3 linked regions of the Homo sapiens genome follow. The protein of the gene in region 2 purifies or fractionates together with the protein of the main gene of each other region. This does not show direct contact. Each region holds a gene or a part of one and is shown on either strand. Other genes may lie near its edges. The genes, in order: PRIM2, AMMECR1 and PPP3CC.

Region 1 (2,521 bases), on a different chromosome or scaffold from region 2:
TGAATACAAACATGCCTGGTTCATAACTTATGTTATTTTTTCTCAAATACTATCATTAAACTTTAATTTTGAGTATCATTTCAAATTATGCACTCTAGTAATCTCTCCTTATATTCAGTTTCACTTTCCACAGTCTCAAATCCCTGCCTTCTCGCCTTCTGCAGTTGGAGTTGACAACAAAAATATCATTTTGCTTGAGTGAGTGACTGTTGGTTTCTTGGGTGGTATTTTCATTTATCAAGTTTTTGGAAACTGAGAAGTTATTCCATTTCTTTTGTTCATCTGTCTTGTATTAACTAATCCTTTTACGTCTCACTCTTCGTACTGAAGTGACTTGCACACTGTAGGTATCTAATAAATATTTGGTGAAGTGAACCCAGAAATAGTGTATACCAGTGATAATTTTGCATATTTAATTAAAGCCTTACTATATAAAAGACTGTGTTATAAACTATTCACTATTCAGCATACAGGAATACATTTGACTAACTCAAATTTCCAACCCAGTAAGTCATATACTTAAAAACCTCTACCAAGAATGGAGAACTGATGAGGGTCACAGATAAAGGCCTATTACACTCCACAGTAGAGAGAAATTTCGGCTGAGGAGATCAAGGAAGGCTTTGTAAGAGGAGTGCTATTTGAGTTGCGTCTGGAAAGATGGAGAGGGTGAAAAGCTGGGATGATGAGGGGAAAGGCAATATTTGCAGCAGGACCACATGAGCAAGGTAAAGAGGGAATGTCCTGGGAAAGCAAATATTAAATAGTTCACATAGCCTACTATGAAAGGCACATACAAGGAAACAATAAGGAATGAGGTTGGAAAGACAGGCAGGGGCCAGCCTGAGAGAGCCTTGAAAATCAGGGTAAGTGGTCAAGACCTAATTCTCTAGGCAACACAGAGTCACCAAAAACCCTTAAAAAGAGACGTGGTGTGATTAAAGCTATGTATAATCTTTTAGTAGATTAAAATGAATTGGCCAGGGAAAAAGGGGTTGCTGCCATGGTCTAGAATGAACCCTACTGGTGGACGGACCAGCAGACAGAAACATGAGTCTTTTCTGGTAATACTTATCTAAGCACCCTAGGAATCTCTGATTCTCTTTTGCTAGTTGTTAATACATGTTAGGCTAATTTTATAGTAATTCCAGTGTGTAACAGATGGATAGTATACAGACTGATTTTAAGAGTTATAGATCATTAAGAACAAATTTTTATCTTTGCTTCATTTTTTTAACTTAGCTGCTTGATTTCAAAATGTTTCTGAAATGTTTTATAATTTTTATTAACAATGGAATCATTTGTGAACTTTTTTATTACATTCAATTTTCACCCAATTCATTAAAAACTGGGAAATCCAATATAAATTTTGCATTTTGCAATGTGTTTCACAAAAAGTATGTTTATTGTCTAATACATTTTAATCAGAAGGCTTTACAGTTTGTAAAATAGTTTGTAAACAGAGAATCAGAGATTAGAAAGACCTTGGGGAATCCATTAAATTCAATCTCCTCCATGTACAGAGGCCTAAGGAGAATAGATGGTTTATTCAAGGTCATAGAATTAGTAACTGGTTTTGTCTGAATTAAAATTCAGGCCTTCTGACTAGATCATTAGTTGCTCTGAAATCTGTTTTAAGAGATTGTATGCAAAATCATACTGATAATGATATCTCCATTATAAATTTTATTTCTAGAGATAAACTTGGCTACAAAGATTAGAAAAACATAGTTGTACTATTTCATGCAAAAATAACCTAGTATCTTATGCTATAATAATATCTTGGCATTTTCTATACCTCGCTTCAAGTTGTCAGTTAGCAATACATTTATTAGACTTCAATGTGCACAAAATAGGGTAATCTTTTTAAAGTCTGATTTTCTCCATCTATGAAATGGAGATAACAGTGTTAGGTCATAGGGTTGCCATGGGAAAAGTAAATAAAAATGAATGTTAAAAAAAATTGTTCTATGAAATCTAAATAAAATGTTTTTAAAGAGTCAAGAAAAGCAAGTCACTTAAAAAAAAGGTGAAAGTCACAGAAGGAGAGGGAGAAAGATCCTATTGCTTTGCATATATCAAGTTCCTTTTCTACTTTAAGGAATCCAAACTGGAAATTGCTGATGCTGTATTATGGGTATAGTTTATAAAAGAAAGATAAAATCAAATTCCAAACACTAAACGATACTCAAAAGACCCTGCCCTAACTAATAAATGGCATTTAAATGACTTAACTTTAAGATATAATATTTAAGGGGCTGGGCGTGGTGGCTCACGCCTGTAATCCCAGCACTTTGGGAGGCCGAGACGGGCGGATCACGAGGTCAGGAGATTGAGACCATCCTGGCTAACACGGTGAAACCCCGTCTCTACTAAAAATACAAAAATTAGCCGGGCATGGTGGCGCGTGCCTGTAGTCCCAGCTACACGGGAGGCTGAGGCAGGAGAATGGCGTGAACCCGGGAGGCGGAGCTTGCAGTGAGTCGAGATCGCGCCACTGCACTCCAGCCTGGGCGACAGA
Region 2 (3,661 bases):
CACTGCACCCTCGACCTCCTGGGTTCAAGCAATCCTCCTGCCTCAGCCTCCCAAGTAGCTGGGACTACAGGCGCATGCCATCATGCTCAGCTAAGTTTTTCAAATATATAATTTGTAGAGATGGGGGTCTCACTATGTTGTCTAGGCTGGTCTAGAACTCCTGGGTTCAAGCAATCCTCCTGCCTCAGCCTCTCAAAGTGTTGGGATTACAGGCGTGAGCCATGGCACCTAGCCAGAATAATTATTTTTTAACAAGAATGCTGTGGCCATTGATTCTAAAGGAGGGACATCTAAGTTTTTATGATGTAAAACATAAAAAGCACTCCTGCTCCAGATCAGGTGCTCAATCTCCCTTTTCTGCCCTGAATCCATGCTTCACTTAACTTGAATACAATTCATTTTACTCCCTCCCTGATTCCTATATGCCCTCTGTCCCTGCCTCGAACCACATGTGACTCTCTTTCTCCACACAGCCAATGCCTACAATGTGGGAGAGTCAATTCCCACAAAAATTGCCAGACAGGACAATAGTTGGAGGAGTTTGTGGAGTAAAGTATACCACAAACCACATATCACCCACCTCATTAGTGTCGGAAAAATAGAATATTATTCCTTTTTGTTCTTGTGAGGGTTTTTTGAATGGACAAGTAGAAGAGTGTGGGGGTAGATGGATCTGTGAACTCAAAAAAAATTTTAACTACTGACTTTCTCTGTACCTACTCCTAACATCAAAGAGCTATTCCACAAAATCAAGTACCCAGCCAAGCTAGTGGCAAGTTTTTTATTGGCTTGTTTTGTTTTAATGCAAAAGAAGCTGTGGCAAGTTTTTTTTTTAATTTGTTTTTGTCATTATCATAGGGAAACTCATGAATTGTGTTGAGAACACATGAATTGTGTTGAGAATACCTACTCTAACATGGAAAAAAGGCAAAGACTTCATGAGATTCTTCTTTATTGAATAAATCACCAATGCCATCTTCTACTTACCATATAAAAAAGGAGGTAAAAAAGCACCCGTCAATCTAAACACTTCACTTTTGTTCAAAATCAGCACAAAGTGTTTGCCTTGCTACAATGAATTATGTACTGAGGCCCAAGTTTTACCAGCTATATAATTTATTTGCACCCCAAACCACCTAAACCTAACCGTGTGGTTGCTAGGCTACTATAAGCGATAATGATATCACAGAAAAGAAACACACTAATGTAACTAGTACATAAGCATTTATTTGAGGCAGATACAGTGCTGTGGGACCCCTAGGCTAACAGCATCAAAACCAATTTTTCAGAGACTCCATTCCATAGGAATTACTCAAAGATCCACTAACACCTGAAGCAAAGCAGAGAATCTGTTACCACCTTGCAGCAATCCAAGATCTCACTAGAAAATATGTTACTAAAGTTGTATGTAATATGCTTACAGATCACAGTGAAAGTATATCGAATGGCAAGGTGAACTATATAGGCTCTTAATTCAATCTCACTACTTTCTATTACTAGAGAACTGGTCAGCATCTTCTGGCAGGATACTGCATAAAACAGTCAACTGTGCTCTCCCGGCACTGCATGTGGCTTTGGGTAACAATGTGGATTATCTGTAAAATGAAACAGATAGGGAAAAGGCAAGAATCATCAAGACTATCACAGACTTTATTGAAAAAAACTAGTATTAGTAGGTCTTTACTCAAGCAGAACTTTTCACTTTTGCCCATCCACTGAAGATCGCAAAGATCCTAAAGCAATATGGCTGATCCCATCAGTTCATAACATCCATCCTTCATCATTGAGCAAAGCCACAAAACAGATCCAGCTTGATTCAATCTATTTTACTTTCTAAGCTTTAGGACACACAACCTAGAATCTTGTACCAAAGGCACTTCTAGTCCTTCAAAAATTTCCCTTTAGTTCTGAAATTATGAATTCCTGAGATGGCCTGCCACGAGGCTTTATCTTGCTCAAGGCTGTACTATGATATACACATAAGGAAATAAAAGGATCACTGCCTGCTTTACAAATTGATAAGCCTGAAGACTAAGAAAATGTAAAAACCTACATTAAAGAAACCCAAAATTCTGCCAGGTATTTTTACTAGCAGTACAAAGCTGAAAACTATCACTGATATCTACTTATCTGAGCCATTCAAAGTCACAAAGTGGGGGAGTGATCCCAAGGGGCCAACTAAAACATCACAATAGCTCTGTTGCTGCTCTGTGGTTCTGGTAATTCAAAAAGAAATAACATTTGATAACTGCCAACACTTGGAACTACACATAGTAAGAAATCTGATTTCACCTGCCCAACCATTTGTTTCTTCCCATATTCCCCCCATGTTTTTTAATGGCACCACCATCCTCATGGTTCCCCAGGCTTATGAACTCTGAATCATGTTCAAAGCCTCTCTTCTTTTACTTCTGCCAAGCAACCAGAATTTGTTTTTTTTTTTCCTGCAGTGCCTCTCCATGCACATGTAGTCACCTAATCACAGGTCCTCATCCAAAAGCTATTCCAGCTATCTTTATATTTGATACAAATTCTATAAACCGATGTGTCCTCTCATCCTTTCTCCCAAATTAGATACAGCTGGGAATAGGTGAAGAGGGAAAGGGGAGGAGAGTTCTTATGCCTGTGATCAAATTTCATAGCCATTTCAACAGAGCTGTTTAACAAACTTTTTCTGAGCACAAGAATAGCTAGGCACAGAGCCAAGAAAAGAAGAGGCAATGATGGAAGCCAAAAACAGGTGAGCTACAATCTTTCCACTCCTACACAAAACCTGGCCCTAGAGTATGAACCCTTGCATATGCTGATAACTTCTTCCAATTCTCAATTTTGCAACATTCCTATATTCACAAACTCTGCCCCTGGGGTGGCTTTCCCACTTTCCAATGCCAGTTTTCCTACTGCCCTCATAACCTTAAGCCTAGTTAGTCTCCCCTATCTTGAGACTCTTCTCCCAATTCATCTGATACTCTAGAGGACTCTTCTGCAAATCCTGTTCTCTTCCTAATACAAGAAACTATAAGCAGATACAAGATCTCTTATCCAGCCTCCCCAGAGGATTCTCAACACAAAGGCCACTTTTAATTTCCTTGAAGTTTTATGATCTTAGAGACCAGAGCAAGGGGAGTGATATGAAGAATGCTGAGAGTGCAAGTTGCTGACTGAAGACAGCTGCTGGGAATCCCCAAGTACTGTGGCAAGGGGTGTGGTGGTGACAGCAACGGGTTTAAGAACAACCAAGTAAGACTTCAAGATCTACTGGTCAAACAGACTCTACCAATAATTTCTGTACCTCCTCCATTTCAAAACTTGGTTCCAGTTATTCCCTCCCTATAGCCTTCTCCCTGACCACTCCTTTATTCCATGTCATTTCCATGTGTATGCATTTTATGTGTATTTTATTAATCTACAATCATGTATATATTGCTTTGTAAGTATTTCAAGCAACTTTGATAATAGTATCATATCTTGAACAGGACTGTAAGCTCTGTGAGGATAGGACTATTCCTTCTATTTTTCTGGTTTCCAACCATGAAACTCAGGATAATGTATATTTTTTACAAAAACAGGGTTTTTTTTTCCAATGACATATAATTTCCACTCAGCTATTCAACACTAACATTTTTAACTTTGAGCAAGTTTCAATGTCTGAAACATTAAG
Region 3 (3,661 bases), on a different chromosome or scaffold from region 2:
GAAAGAGGTAGCGTGTGTTACTAGGTGATCCTCCAACTTCAAATAACTTCATTAGGTCAAAGAATTGTCCATGAATATCACCACATACTAGGAAAAAAAGCATAAAGTGATGTGAGAAATTATACCTTAGAAGACGAAGGGCATTACACCAAAAGGGATCACAGTTTAACTTCTAACTTAAATCACTCCAGCTTTTGACAGGACTGCTGTAAAACTGTAGTCAATCTACTCATACTAAATAGTTCTACTGGAAATATGAGACACTTAAAATTGTATTTCTTCAATTAACAACAAATATCCTAACCAATCCTGACTGTCTCATAATTTCTAGAAAAATTACCACACCACTTTTTAGCTGGTTATTTGTAATTATTTCTCAAAACTGCTCATGCAAATCTATACTGTAAAAAAGTATCATGCAAAGACTTTTTATACCTGTGATTGGAGCATCTACTTCTATCATAGTCTTCTCTTGCCTCAGGATGGCAGCCCCATCATTGATTATCTTTAAGGCTACTTCCTCTTCCAGTCGTCCTTCCTTTACCAAATGGTTTTTTAAAACATCAACTTTAGGTTTCCCATTCTCAAATACTTCCTTGAAAGTAAGCCGTTGGGTTGGAGGAAAGGGGACAGCTACAAAAAAATAATAATAATAATTTAAAATATTTAAATGTATAGAGAACAAACAGAACACAATTCTTTTACATGACAAATTAAACCTAATAAATCACCATGATTTCACATCCACAGCACCAGTACGTGGGGAAAAAATTCTAAGATACTATGTATCATAAATGATCAATTCTAAGTATAAAAAGGTGACAGTCATTTTAAATATTTGTGTGTGCATAAATTATAATGGTTTTTGTTGTTTGTTTTTTTGAGATGGAGGCTTGCTCTGTCAACCCAGGCTGGAATGCAGTGACACGATCTCAGCTCACTGCAACCTCCGCCTCCTGAGTTCAAGCGATTCTTCTGTCTCAGCCTTCTGAGTAGCTGGGATTACAGAAGCATGCCACCACACCTGGCTAATTTTTGCATTTTTAGTAGACACAGGGTTTCACCATGTTGGCCAGCCTGCTCTCGAACTCCTGACCTCAGGTGATCCACCTGCCTCGGCCTCCCAAAGTGCTGGGATTACAGGAGTGAGCCACTGCGCCCAGCCCTATGTTTTACACATAAACATGAAAGACTTGAAGCTGATTCAGGGAACAAGTTATAAATGAGACAAGACACTAGATGACATGAGTATCTTTGTTTTTCTATCTATAGAACAGGTGTTAAAAATGAAACTATGGTTAAAGAAAATGAAAGAAAAGTAGTCATAATACTAAAATGGCATTTATTTCTCCTATAGAACTGTCCTAATGACACCTATGTTTTAGAAGTCTCGGCCGGGCACCATGGCTCACGCCTGTAATCCCAGCACTTTGGGAGGCTGAGGCAGGCAGATCACTTGAGGTCAGGAGTTCAAGACCAGCCTGGGCAACATGGCAAAACTCCACCTCTACTAAAAATACAAAAATTAGCCAGGTGTAGTGACAAGTGCCCATAATCCCAGCTACTCGGGAAGCTGAGGCAGAAGAATCGCTTGAACGTGGGAGGCAGAGGTTGCAGTGAGCTGAGATCGCGCCACTGAACTCCAGCCTGGGCAACAGAGCAAGACACTGTCTCAAAATAAAACAAAACAAAACAGAATAAAACAAAAGGCAGTAGCTTAATGTACTTTGTTACTGATAATAACAAGAACACTACTACCAAGATGGAGCTATGTCTGAGAATAATTTGCTGTAGTAACAGAGCATAAAAGAATGGATAAGGGGCCGGGTGTGGTGTGGCTCACGCTTGTAATCCCAGCACCTTGGGAGGCCAAGGTAGGTGGATCACCTGAGGTCGGGAGTTCAAAACCAGCCTGGCCAACATGGTGAAACCCTGTCTTTACTAAAAATACAAAAATTAGCCGGGTGTGATGGCACACACCTGTAATCCCAGCTACCTGGGAGGCTGAGGCAGAAGAATTGCTTGAATCTGGGAGATGGAGGTTGCAGTGAGCCGAGATTGTGACACTGCACTTCAGCCTGGGCGACAGAGCAAGACTCCGTTTCAAAAAAAAAAAAAGTGGATAAGGGAAGTCCAGTTATGTTTTCTAACCTGGAAATGCTAATAACTACCTTCAGTTTACATTAGGTACAAAGTTTATATATATAATATCATGGAGAATTAGCAAGTTCATTTAATATTTTTAAATTGGCTGTTGTCTTGTTATGTGCCTACTTTATAACACAGTCTACTTTAGATCCCCTGGGATCTAAGAGCCACAAGTCTGTAAACCATAAATTTAAAAGGAGGCGTTCAATTGAATTTCTGATATATGTCCAATGTTTCCACTTCCAGCTTTATGGAACCAAGTTGAAATCTATGAGTATTTTTAAAAGACTTAATCTAGCCATACCATATTGTATCATTTACAAGTAAAGAAAGTCCTATTATAAGTTTCGTCATGCTTTCAGCTACTACTTGACTCATTTTAACTACTCAAATTTCACTGAAAAAACGATAGCAGCTACCCAACCACTAAAATAGCTAAATACAGTTGTGTGCCACAAAATGATGTTTTGGTCAACAATGGACTGTAGTTAAATGGAGCTGAAAAACTCCTGTCATCTAGTAACGTTATAGCCACAATAACATCGCAGGAATTGACTAATGAGTGGGAACTGGAATAGGAATGCAAAGCTGAAGAAGCAGCAAGAGAGAAGGAAGTTTGCTGGAGAAAGAAAAAGAACCCCCAACAAAACTCACAGTGAAGGGTTTGGGAGAAGCTTTTGCACACCTCAACAAACTCCTTAGGAAGTGTGAAAACATGGACCCCCAAAAACAGAAAGGTTTTCATTAATACACAGGAATGTTCATGCTGCATTAACTGCTTACAAACAAATCTACAATGAAAAATAGAAATAAACCAAGCAAAACACCATGGGCAAATTTCTGAAAAGAGTGACATCTCCTCAAGAGCCTCAGGCAGGTCCTTCAGGAGGACTTCCAGAAGAAGGTATTGTTATCCTAGGAGATAACAGCTCCATGCCTGTTACTGCTCCTGAAGGTGTGCCAGTGGATAAAGATGTAGGGGGGCAAGCCAGGGATATTCATGATCCTGACCCTGTGTAGACCTAGGCTCAGTGTGTGTGTGTGTGTGTGTGTGTGTGTGTGTGTGTGTGTGTGTTCATTTTTACCAAAATATTCTAAAAGTTAAAAAAAAATTTAAACTTTTTAAATAGAAAAAGCCTATAAAGATATAAAGAAAAATTATTTTCTATAGCTATACAATGTACTTGTCTTTTAAGCTAGGTGTTATTACAAAAAAGTCCAAAAGTTTTTAAAAACTGAAACATTTATAAAGTAAAAACTTAACAGTAAGCTAAGTTTAATATATTATTAAAGAAAAAAAATTTGTTTTTGAGATAGGATCTCGCTTTATTGCCCAGATGGGAGTGCAATGGCACTACCATGGCTCACTGCACCTTCAACCTCCTGGCTCAAATGATCCTCTCACCTCAGCCTCCCAGTCCTCAGCTGGGACTACAGGTGTGCGCCACCATGCCTGGCTAATTTTTGTATTTTTTGTAGAGATGGGGTTTTGCCACGCTCCCCAGACTGGTCT

What was found.
Region 1: the proteins of AMMECR1 (region 2) and PRIM2 purify together in Homo sapiens (affinity purification with mass spectrometry; one large-scale study listed by BioGRID and IntAct). This does not show direct contact.
Region 3: the proteins of AMMECR1 (region 2) and PPP3CC purify together in Homo sapiens (affinity purification with mass spectrometry; one large-scale study listed by BioGRID and IntAct). This does not show direct contact.

What each region holds. Positions count from the first base shown.
Region 1 is NC_000006.12:57,642,476-57,644,996, reverse strand, and holds part of PRIM2 (DNA primase large subunit), read right to left. Parts: intron 1-2,521. UniProt on the Homo sapiens protein: Regulatory subunit of the DNA primase complex and component of the DNA polymerase alpha complex (also known as the alpha DNA polymerase-primase complex) which play an essential role in the initiation of DNA synthesis.
Region 2 is NC_000023.11:110,307,943-110,311,603, forward strand, and holds part of AMMECR1 (nuclear protein AMMECR1), read right to left. Parts: intron 1-3,661.
Region 3 is NC_000008.11:22,471,926-22,475,586, reverse strand, and holds part of PPP3CC (serine/threonine-protein phosphatase 2B catalytic subunit gamma isoform), read right to left. Parts: intron 634-3,661; coding exon 436-633; intron 88-435; coding exon 1-87. UniProt on the Homo sapiens protein: Calcium-dependent, calmodulin-stimulated protein phosphatase which plays an essential role in the transduction of intracellular Ca(2+)-mediated signals. Dephosphorylates and activates transcription factor NFATC1.